Linked DNA regions of Homo sapiens. The protein of the gene in region 3 interacts with the protein of the main gene of each other region in a biochemical or structural test. Each region holds a gene or a part of one and is shown on either strand. Other genes may lie near its edges. The genes, in order: TANC1, LRP2 and DLG4.

The links.
Region 1: the proteins of DLG4 (region 3) and TANC1 interact in a test that uses a peptide from one of them, tested with the Homo sapiens proteins (2 studies listed by IntAct, with this or other methods).
Region 2: the proteins of DLG4 (region 3) and LRP2 form a complex in vitro, tested with the Homo sapiens proteins (2 studies listed by BioGRID and IntAct, with this or other methods).

Annotation. Positions count from the first base shown.
Region 1 is NC_000002.12:158,971,600-158,975,345, reverse strand, and holds part of TANC1 (protein TANC1), read right to left. Parts: intron 1-3,746. UniProt on the Homo sapiens protein: May be a scaffold component in the postsynaptic density.
Region 2 is NC_000002.12:169,360,501-169,364,246, forward strand, and holds the start of LRP2 (low-density lipoprotein receptor-related protein 2 precursor), read right to left. Parts: upstream 2,035-3,746; 5' UTR 1,900-2,034; coding exon 1,821-1,899; intron 1-1,820. UniProt on the Homo sapiens protein: Multiligand endocytic receptor. Acts together with CUBN to mediate endocytosis of high-density lipoproteins. Mediates receptor-mediated uptake of polybasic drugs such as aprotinin, aminoglycosides and polymyxin B.
Region 3 is NC_000017.11:7,189,882-7,193,627, forward strand, and holds part of DLG4 (disks large homolog 4), read right to left. Parts: intron 3,704-3,746; coding exon 3,602-3,703; intron 3,237-3,601; coding exon 3,064-3,236; intron 2,122-3,063; coding exon 2,012-2,121; intron 1,478-2,011; coding exon 1,386-1,477; intron 934-1,385; coding exon 827-933; 3' UTR 1-826. UniProt on the Homo sapiens protein: Postsynaptic scaffolding protein that plays a critical role in synaptogenesis and synaptic plasticity by providing a platform for the postsynaptic clustering of crucial synaptic proteins.

The DNA.
Region 1 (3,746 bases), on a different chromosome or scaffold from region 3:
AACTAATCAAAAGCAGGATTATAGTAGTAAGCACAGTCACCCCCCTCCACACCCAACCCTCCATATCTCAGGTTCCATGGCCACAGATTCAACAAACCTAGGTTAGAAAATATTCAAAAAATATTCTAGTAACTGACCACTGGAAAAAAGATAACAATACAATAAACACAATAAAATACAATAAATACAATAAAAATATAAATTTTAAAACAATACAGAATAACAACTATTTATCTAGCATTTACATTATATTAGGTATTATAAATAATCTAGAGATGATTTAAAGTATGAAGGAGGACTGGGGGGTTGGCTCATGCCTGTAATCCCAGCACTTTGAGAGGCCAAGGCAGGAGGATCACTTGAACCAAGAGTTGAGACCAGCCTGGTCTGGTCTCATAGTAAGACCCTGTCTCTACAAAAAAAAAAAAAAAAAAAAAATACAAAAATTAGCTGGGTGTGGTGGTGTGCACCTGTACTCCCAGCTACTTAGGAGGCTGAGGTGGAAGGATTGCATGAGTCCAGGAGGTTGAGGATGCAGTGAGCCATGATCACACCAGTGCAGTCCAGCCTGGGCAACAAATGGAAACCCTTTCTCAAAATAAAATACAAAGGAGGCCAGGCAAGGTGGCTCACGCCTGTAATCCCAGCACTTTGGGAGGCTGAGGCAGGTGGATCACCTGAGGTCAGGAGTTCAAGACCAGCCTGGCCAACATGGTGAAACCCCATCTTTACTAAAAACACAAAAATTAGCCAGGCGTGGTGGCACATGCCTGTAATCCCAGCTACTCGGGAGGCCGAGGCAGGAGAATCACTTGAACCCGGGAGGCAAAGGTTGCAGTAGCTGAGATTGTACCACTGTGCTCCAGCCTGGGTAACAGAGTGAGACTCTGTCTCGAAATAATAAAATTAAAAAATATATATATATGAGGGTATGCATAAGCTATATGCAAATAATACATGATTTTTAATAAGGGACTTAAGCATTTGAGGATTTTAGTATCCGTGGGAATCCTGGAACCAATCTTCCATAGGTATCAAGGATGGTTATAATGTTGTAAACTATTGCAGCAATGGCCCTCAATGAATCATGTAACCACCACGGCACCAGTGAGCCTAGGCACAGGGAACCTGGCCCCCATTTCTGAATCCCAAGCAAATAAACAGTTGTTGTTAAGCCACAAGAAGCAAGGAGGACCAGAACACAGAATGCTGTTGTATGGTGACCATCCCTGCCATAGTATTCTACGTATGTAGGACAACAGGAGAAGAAAGAACCAAACTGTTTCATCCACAGACTTTTAAAATTCAAACATGTAGTTCAGAGTCAGCCGGCACTCAATAAACATTAATAATTAATGTTACTTATCCCAAGTAATTTAGAACAAAGCATGGCAGAGAGAGGGGAGTGTAATGGGTTACATGGGAATAATGACCAACTCTTACGTTTTTAGCAGTAATTCAATACCCCCTCATGTCTGTGTACATAGCAATTCAGAGTCCCACAGAATGTGGACAAGTCCACTGCCCTCAAGACTACAGGGGTGTACATCACAACAACATTAAGAATCTTCATATCCTTTGGTATGTTGTTATGATCAGCAGTACCACTTGTGGAAATGTACACTGCCCTGGCTAGCTCTTTTGTTGATCCAGCTCCCTCCCTCTTCCATTAACAATAACCCTCTTCTTTGTGGGATACTTTGTCTCCCCACAGCCCCATTTTATGGGTCTAACCGTAACTCTCCTTTGGCTGGCATCAAGCCAATTCGGGTTCCCTCCAGGGCTTTCCCAAATTGGAACTAACATCAAAAAGGCCAATTCTGGATGTGAGGCTTGAGAGCTATAATACCAGCAGCCGTATACGTATGATCTTTTTCATATTTCTTCAAAAGCTCATGCAACAGAGGATCCCATTTTTGCATGGGTATACATGCATGAAAAGGTCACAGCTGAGTGCTTCTGAGAGACTTCCCTACTCTCCACCCCCATCTCCTACCCAAAGAGGTAATAAGCCACTGTTCATGACTGGCACGTAACCCTAGGTGTGCTGAGGTGGGGCAGGGAAGAGGTTGAGTCACTGTGGCTCTGGGCTATGTGAACTGAACATGATGGGTTCGCATCTGTCTACCTCTACAACTGGAAGGTTTCCCCTAATAAATTCCCTCATGTTAGCGAAAAAATCTGTGCTAAAATCCAGGAACTATGTCATCCCTCTGCAACACTTTTGTCCTTGACATTCTGTCTATGGAACTCTTCTTTCTAGAACATTCTCCTTGATCACACCCACCTGCAGGGGAACCTAAAGACAACACCGACCCTAGAAGGGCAAGTTCCATCAGCAACACAGCTAAACCAAACCAGGAGAACTCCTTTCACTCTCCACAAGATAATGTCCTCTGAAAGCCTTCTTCAAAGTCCTCTATCATTCCAAATCCATGCTCCTGATAATATTATTAAAAACCAAGAATCATTCTTCTCCTTTGCTGCTCTTGTGCCCTCCTGGTACAAAGTGTCCCAACTTCTCTAGCTAATAGCACTTCATAATGTTCTCTTCTCTCACTCATGGAAATGGCGGCAATTTCAGATATACTACACCTCCTTCCCAGCCAATGAGCACTGATACATCTTCTTATTGAGGTTTAAACCCCATTGCTTAATATTTTGAAAAGACATTCCTCTGAGAATAAGTTTAAAAAGCTGAAGATGGACAAGCTGCTCAGACATAAAAGAGCCTACAGCTTAACACATAATTGCATTTTAGAACCTGTTAAAGAAAATCAATACCAGCCTCCAGATGAGTGTCAAGCTGCAGTGAGTGCTGCTAACTAGGCAAGCAGGACAAAGCACAAACATTTAGAGACACAGCAAAAATGGGTCACCTGCAACCTACTACCTCTTTACCATCAACCCAACAGCATAAGGGAAGGATGTATTTAGCATGGAAAGTGCTGCAAAATCAGACTTATCCAGCCATCAGTAGGAACAGTCCAAGAATGATGACACCAAAAAAAGGAATACTCACCCAGGCTTTGCAATTAGGCTGAGAGATACCAAGATCAAAGGCAAATGATATGTTCATTTTTTATTTTTAAAAAGAGGTACAGATTTGAGAAGTGATTTCCTTAAGAATGCTGTCTGGGTTACTAGTCCGGATTATAAATCACATTACACCCTGAAGCCTACTTAATAAAAAAGAAGTTGAAAATAAACAAATGATTAGTTTGAAGCATGTGACTTTCTGAAACTCTCTTGAGGAGAAAGTTTTATTACCATTATTGGTGAACTGTTTTTAATCCCTGACATCAAAGCATAGATGTTAACCCTGGGGTTCTGAAATCAAAATAACTCATATATAACCCTAAAAATGTATTGTGAGAAATTGCCACATATTAACTTTAGTCTGTTTGGCAGGTTTGAATAAACAGAGGAGAAGAGACTAGGGAGAATCAGAAGACTCTGGTTCAAGTTCAACTCAACTATTTATAGATGATACAGGTCTAATTTAACTTTCTAGGCCTTGGTTTATTCAAATAAAGGGTTAGGGATAAAATGTGTAAATCAAGCCCTTATAAACCCCATAGCAGTGTTCTAACATTACAGCACTGGCTTCAGAATTCCTACATTTCTCAAACTTTTGGAGAGTCACAGAACTTTAGGGATGCAAGGTAATCCCATTTTAGGGATGAAAAAAATGAGAAAACCAAGACCCAGAAAGGCTTAAGAGTTCTTTGTACAGTGAACACTTT
Region 2 (3,746 bases), on a different chromosome or scaffold from region 3:
TTAGTGACTAAATCATCAACCCAGGAAAAAGAATATCTGTTTTGGTTGTACAAGGACATAGATGAATCAAGGTAAGATTTCCTTTTGCCAGGCACTGACAGGAACATATAGTAAATCCTATAGCTATATTTAGGACATGAGATACAACCCTAAGCATTGTGCAAACTCTGCACAATAATAATAAACCCTCTTTCTGCGTTACCAACACTGAGAAAGGGTGTTCAAAGGAAGGTTATTAATGATCTCTCCTTGCCTCTCCTGCCTTTCTGAAGACTTTTGCAAGACCTGTGGGGTTTGTTAGGGTTTCCAAACTTCTTCCCAGGAAGTCTGAAATGGGTGCTGCTAGGAGTTGCTGTATAATTACTTACTTGATTCCCTCTAAGGAGCTTACGCTAAGAATTGAGGAAAGAAAGCAGATTAACCATTTGAATACATGCCACGGCCCATCCACAAGCCCTCCCCTCACTCCTCCGTAAATGGGGGCTTCCACATTCCCCACCCATCAACCCCAATATGTGATCCAGGAAAATCAATTTATTGCTTTGGCTAATCCTACAACAATAGGGGTTTCATTTTCATTGTAGGGCAATTAAGTTGTCCGACGGGAGGGAAGGAGCAGGAGGGGAAAGGGGGGACTCTCCCATCCCCACAGACAGATTAGTCCCTGCGGTGGCAGCAGCGTCCCCTCTGTCTGTCTGGTGGTCGGTCACACGCAGCTCCCGGCTGCTACCTAGCAACGCAAAGCCAGGGGGAGAGCTCGCCGGTTCCAGCCTCCTCCTCGCCCTTCCCATTCATCCTCGGCCGGGTCTCTGTCTCTCTGTCTCTCTCTGTCTCTCTCTGTCTCTCTCTGTCTCTCTCTCTCTCTCTCTCTCTCTCCCTCTCTCTCTCTCTCTCTGTCTCTCTCCTCTCTCTCCTCTCTCTCTCTCTTCTCCCGCCCCAGTCGTTCTCTTCCCTCCTTCTTTCCTTATTCCTATTTGCTTCTCTTACGCTCTCTCCTCTTCCCTTCTTACTAGTTTTATTCTCTCCGCTTCTTTCTCCCTCTCTTTCCCTCTTCTCTGTTTCTGTTAAAACATAAACTATCGGACAACTTGAGAGAAGTTTAAAGCACTTCATACTAGAAACTTTCTGCATTCGATCCCCAAAACTCTGGCCATGCAGACGGGCCCCATTCATCAACACAAAAGCCCCCAGCTCCCAGCTGGAAAGGAAAACTTCAAGAAAAGACTCCAGTCCCTCAGCCACTCTCTCGGCCAATCCCACCTCCCGGCCTTATCTTGGCTCGTAAATGATCTGTATGGTGAGAGCGGTCTCTGGGGGTCACCGCGGGACCAAGTTTCGCCGGTGGTGGGAGGAGTGCTCTGGCCCGCGGCCCTGGGCGCGCGAAGGGATCCCGGGAGGGGCGCTGCAGGTGGAAAGCTGCGCTCTGAGCAGAGCCCGGGACCGCGCCGCCCAGCAGAGAACTCCGCTAGGGAGGGCAGGCTGCAAACGGCGGAGAACCTCGTTCTCCCGCAAAGTGCTTTCCAGGAGCATCGGACCAACGCCCGTGGGAACAAAGACAGGGTCTCCGTGGGGTGCGCTGTCACCGAAACTGGCGGGGCTGCTTTCTCAAGTTTGCTGCCGCTCAGTTCCTGGCGAGCGAAGAGGGGCGCTCCCGCTCCGGCTTCGCGAAGCAACCTGAGCGCCCCACCGGGAGCAGCTCCCGCGCCGCCGCCCGGCCCTAGCCCCTGCCCGGACGCTCTCCCCTCCGGCCTCCCGCGGACCCGACCCTGCCACAGCCGGGGAAGTGGGGGCTCCACGAGAGGCTCTGGCTGGGCTCTTACCTTGGCCACTGGCCGGCGCTAGGCAGGCGACGAGAGCCAGGAGCAGCGTGCACGCCACTGCTGCCGGCCCGCGATCCATCTCCGCGACGGTCCCCGGCCTCGCCGTTCCTTCCCCGGGAGGTGGGCGCGCGTAGCACACCGCACCGGCAGCGCCTCTGCTAGCGAACGCTCCTTTAGGTCTGCACCTCCGCCAGCTCCTAGTGGCCAAAAGCCTGCCCCCACGCCCGAGGCATCCCGTTTTCTACCCGCGCCAGTCCCCACCCTCCAGACAGTGCATAAAGCCCTTTAGACCCGACCGCCCCGGAACAAGCATGCGGGAATCCAGCGGGCAGGCCCCCTGCCGCCCGGCCCGCCCCCTGCACTTTGCAGCGCGGGGAGGAGTGGGCACTCGAACACACGCGTGCTCACACAGGGACACTCACACAGGCGTGTGCACACTCACACACGCACTCATACAGGCGCATGCACTCCTAAGTGTCACACCAACTGACACAGATTCACTCATACACGCCAGTCACACACGCGCGCACATTCCACAGTCACACTTCAACGCCGACATACACAGTCCCCTTTACGCGTGCATACAAGAGCACACTCCTGTGCGCACACTCTCACAGGCACACTCACACGTGCACACGCGCTGCCCTCGCCTCTCCGCAGGGTTTGCCCCGCACAGAAGCCGGCGAGGCGGCTCACGGGGAAATCTGCACGGACGCAGTTTTACTAAATGAGCAATGGAAAGAAATGGACGAGGAGGAAAGTCAAGAATAGAGAAGAGAAAGAAAAAATAAGAAATGGAAAAGGAAAGCACAACCAGACAAGTAAAAATGAAGGAAAGAGAAAGAAAGGGAAAGAGGCGGGGGTAGGGAAGGGAAGGAGTAAAGAGCCTGCTGGATGGAGATCTGTGACCTTCATTCCTGGCCTGATCTCTCTAGGCTCCTTCGGATATCTTGGTTTCCCCTGATAGGATACAGGCTGCTGAGATGGGGTGCTTTGTGTTTTTACAAATTAGAGAGGGAGGTGGATCTTTGTTGGGGAGGTTGGATCCTTATTTAGCAATTATTCAGCACCACATCTACAGGTGTCATGGCCAGATCGTGCTTCTTACAAGTCTGCTCATTTTGAAGCAAAATTGAAAAAGAGCGAACGTCTTCTCCATGGTTCCGGTACCCTTTTATAAGAAGGAGAAACACGAGAGGTTCAGGGAACCCCTAGCCTCCCTTCTTTGGGGCCGCTTTGGACAGGCTGGCAAGGGGCCCGGAAGCCAAAAGCACAAGTGGCCTTACACCCGCCCTCAGCGCACGTCCTCAGCCTGTACGTGACATCAGAGCCCACAGGGAGGGGTAAAAAAGGAGGGTTGATGCAAGTTATTTCCCGGTGGTGGGAACCCTGTGTGAGAAGGGGCTGTTTGCGGGCCTGAGGCCATCCCATCATCTCCAGCTCCAGCCCCTGAACCAGCGCGGCAGCTAGTCCCAGGCTCCGGATCCTGGTCCAAGAAGTCAGGAGCCCTTTCCCTCCAGCGAAGGGGCCGTGACGCATGGAGGAGACAGCCCTGAACGCACGTGGTCGCTGGACAGGTTCCCGCTGCCTCCCTTCCCCAGGGGCGAGAACCTGCCAATTACTGCCAGCCCCTTTCCCCGGGGCACAGGTCGTCCGGGGCTCTGCTGACCCCAACAGTCCGGATCGCGTAGCTTCCGTGGGCTGCAGTGGTAGGCGCAGCTTTAGGTGTGGGGGCTAGGGGAGGGAAAGGATAGGTGTTACTTTGGAAAGACAAAAAGAGATAAATAGACACAAAAAGAGAAAACTTAGGCTTAAAGAAAAAAAGGTGGAGCGGGCAGCGTTGTGGGAAAGAGTGGGAGAGATTCCTGGATTGGGAAATCCAGAGGTCTGTGCTCTGGCCAAAGTCACTGGTTCTCTATTTGCCTC
Region 3 (3,746 bases):
ACACCAAGTTTCAAGTATCTGTCTCTTCCTTTCACTCTCTCAAAAGAAAAAAATAAATAAATTGCAGAAGGCGGCAGCATTTCCAGTCTTCCCTGGCTCCCGGACACCCGACCCCCGACCCCTGCCCCCCACCCTCCCTCCCGCATTTCCCACTCCCTAGACCCATCCCTCCCTTTTCCCCAAAAAAATTCCCAGGAAAAAAAAAAAAAAAAGCCACATTTAGACCTTCCACTCATGCAAACCGGCAAAGAAAAATGGTGGGGGCATGTGGAAGGCAGGGGCCCGCTGCGGAGTCCCCTGCTTCTCCCCCCAAAAAACCACCTTTGAGAAGAAAAAAAGTGGAAAAAATAAATGAGAAATCAAGGAACATGGGGAATTACGATGAGGGCAGGGGTGACCCCAGACCCTGCCTTAGGAGAGAGCGGAGGCCTGTGGCCCTGCATCCCTGCAGCGGGTGCTCCTCGAGGGGGCCCTGACTTCTGGAATGTGTGTGGGAGAGGATGGGGGAGGGCAGGTGGCCCCCGGTGGGTCTGTGTGTGCATTGGGGGCAGGTGGGGGCGGGGATCCTAAGGAGCAAGGGCTCGGAACAAGGAGCCCAGCTCCCCCCCAGACCCCAGGTTCCTGGCGTTCAGGAGCCCAGTTCTGGGGTGCGGGGATACATGCAGAGGAGTGTCCCCCCTCCAACAGGCTGGATCCAGTTAGAAAGGAAATAAATAAGAAGGGGTGGGAGGGAGGCCGGGGGGAGCCAAGGGCTTGGGCAATTCAGTCCAGACCAAGGGCCCAGGTGATGGAGGCAGGGCGAGTCCAGGCCAAGCCAGGGCAGGAATCAGAGTCTCTCTCGGGCTGGAACCCAGATGTAGGGGCCTGAGAGGTCCTCGATGACACGCTTCACCTTGTGGTAGATCTCCTCAAAGCTGTCACCCTCCACGATGGCTGGGAGTGGGGTGGAGCAGGGAGTGAGGCCAAGGAAGGGCCAGAGGACACCTGGCCAAGGGGGTTGCACCAGCCCAGAGGAAGGGGCACCTCTTTCCAACTCTCCAAGCCATAAGTCCTGGGGCTGCACCCGCCCACAGGGGCACCTCTTTTTTTTTTTTTTTTTTTTTTTTGAGATTGAGTTTTGCTCTTAGCGCCAGGCTGGAGTGCAGTGGTGCGATCTCGGCTCACTGCAACCTCTGCCTCCCAGGTTCAAGCGATTCTCCTGCCTCGGCCTACCGAGTAGCTGGGATTACAGGTGCCCGCCAGTGCTGGGATTACAGGCGTGAGCCACCATGCCGCGCCCACAGGGGCACCTCTTTCTAAGCCATCCACTGGGGGTGGCGGGGGAGCTCTTTCTAATCCGAGCAAGGGCACCCTACATGCTGGCAACAGCCTTGCTGTGGCCTCACCTGAGAAGCACTCTGTGAACTCCTGCTCCAGCTTGGTGGCTCTGTCGAAGGCTTTGCGGGCTTGCTCCTCTGTGATCCGCTTGTTAATCTCTCTGTGAAGAGGGAGGGAGAGCAGGCCTGAGACTGGACCCACCTGACCCTGCCTTTTATCTCCTCTATCCAGGAATGTTAAGTATTCTTCTATTTGGAGCACATAGCAAAAAAAAAAATACAATTCCCAATATCCTCTGGGGCCACAGATGAGAACCACCCCCCACCCCCCTGCCACCCGCAACCGCCCCAGCCAGGTGTGGCTACTCCAGGGACATCTACGGAGCTTCATCCTTCCAGCCTTCAGCCCCAGAGATGGGATTCGGACTCCAATTCCCAACAGCCCTAGAGGCCCTGACTCGCCCCAGCTGGTATGCCCCAGGGGCTGCTGGGAAATGTAGTCCTGTCTAGCCAAGGCAGGAGAGGAGGGGAAAGACCCGATTCCCCCACATCCTCTGGGTTCCAGGGATCCCCCTCAGGGGCTGCTGAAACCGCTGTCCAGGGTTCTGAAGGGAGAGTTGAACGCAGACGCCTTGTGAGGCCCAGGGCCACAGGTGTTGGGGGAGCAAAGGGGAGGCCCCCAGGACCATACTCACAGCACATTCTCCAGGGAGCGGGGGCGGATGAAGATGGCGATGGGGTGCAGGTGGGCCGCCTGCAGCCGCCGCACGGCATTGGCCGAGACATCGAGGATGCAGTGCTTCCCCTGGGGGCAGGCAGGGTGGGCGGAGGGGGGCCAGCGGGTGGCGAGAAAGGACAGAGAGCAGTGCCGGAGGGACACGGACGGGGAGAGGTGGGGAATGGGAAGTTGGCCGAAGGGGAGTGACATGGATGTCAAGAAACACGGGGGCAGAGAGTCAGGCAGGAAGCGGGTATGGACAGAGTAAAAGACAGAGGGAAAGGAAAGGGAAGATGGAGAGCACGGGAGAGGGCAGGGACAGGACAGAATGGAGGAAGGGAGGAGCACCAGGCAGGCAGGGACCCAAGAGATGGTGGCAGAGCCGGGGCAGCAGCGAGTGGGGCGGGGTGTGCAAGGCAGAGGTGACACAGGCGGGAAGGAAAGCCAAGAAAAAGGAGAAAGGAAGTAGGATAGAGGGAGGAGGGAGGGGAGGACGGACAGAGGACAGACAGATGGAAGGAACAAGGAGACAGATGGGAGGGAGTGAGGCAGATGGAGAAAGGAACCGTGGAGGGAGGGAGGGAGGGCAGGGTGAGGAGCAGCGGGGAAAGGAAAGGAGTTAGCAGAGGAGTGGGAGAGGGGAGCCGGGCCCCAGAAAAGGGTGAGGCAGGGGAGAGGGCCAGCGGGGAGTCAGGAAAAAGGGAGGGACCCAGTGGGGAAGGCCAAGCCACCAAAGACAAGGCCATGGGAAGAGAGGAGAAATGGGGCAAGGAGAAGGGAGTGGGGAGAGAAAGAGGCCAGATGGTGGTGGGGAATTTGGGGTCAGGAAGTGAGGGAGGTGGGAGAGAGAGCAGGGGCAGAGAGCAGGCAGTCAGACAGAGTTGCCCAAGAGGAGAAGGAGGTGGAGGAGCGGAGTGGAGACCCAGCAGGGAAAGAGACAGAGAGAGAGAGAGTTAGAGAAAGCTGGAGGGAGGCAGTGGGGTGGGGAGAGGGGAGAAGGAAGAGGACCGGGTGCCCGCCAGGTCCTACCTGCTCTGCCACCTCTCGCACGGACTGGACGCTGGTCCCATAGAGGTGGCTGTTGTACTGGCCGGCCTCAATGAACTTGTGCGCCTGAATGTCCTTCTCCATTTTCTCCCGGGACGACACAAAGTGGTAATCCCGGCCATCTATCTCATACTCCCGCTTGGGCCGTGTCGTATCTGCCAGGAAGTCACCCCACCCCCCAAAGATCTAACCACCATCCCTCTAGCTTAAATCCTGCCTACTTCAATCAAATCCCCATAGTGCCCAGCTGGTCCTTTGGTGAAAGGGAGCTGCCAGGGAGACCAAGACTGCAGAGGGCCAGAACCGCTTCCCCTAGCACCCTCCAGGGCCTCCAAGTCTCTGGCCTGGGCATGGGTACTATGGAATGAGAGGGTGGCTGAGAAGCACCCCTTCTCGGAGAAACCCTGTATCTCCCTACACACCGATCCCCCAGGAGGCTCTGCCTATGGCCCCAGGGATGGGCCTCCCCTGCCCCACCCCCACTTCCACCTTCTCCTCCATCCAAGGCCCCAGCACTCACGGGGAACACAGGATCCAAACTTGTCGGGGAACTCGGAGAGAAGATCATCGTTGGCGCGGTCCTTGGTGGGCCCAAGGATGATGATGGGGCGAGCATAGTGCACTGCAGAGAGAGCCTGGCTTAGGCCGAGCGCAGGGTTGGGGGA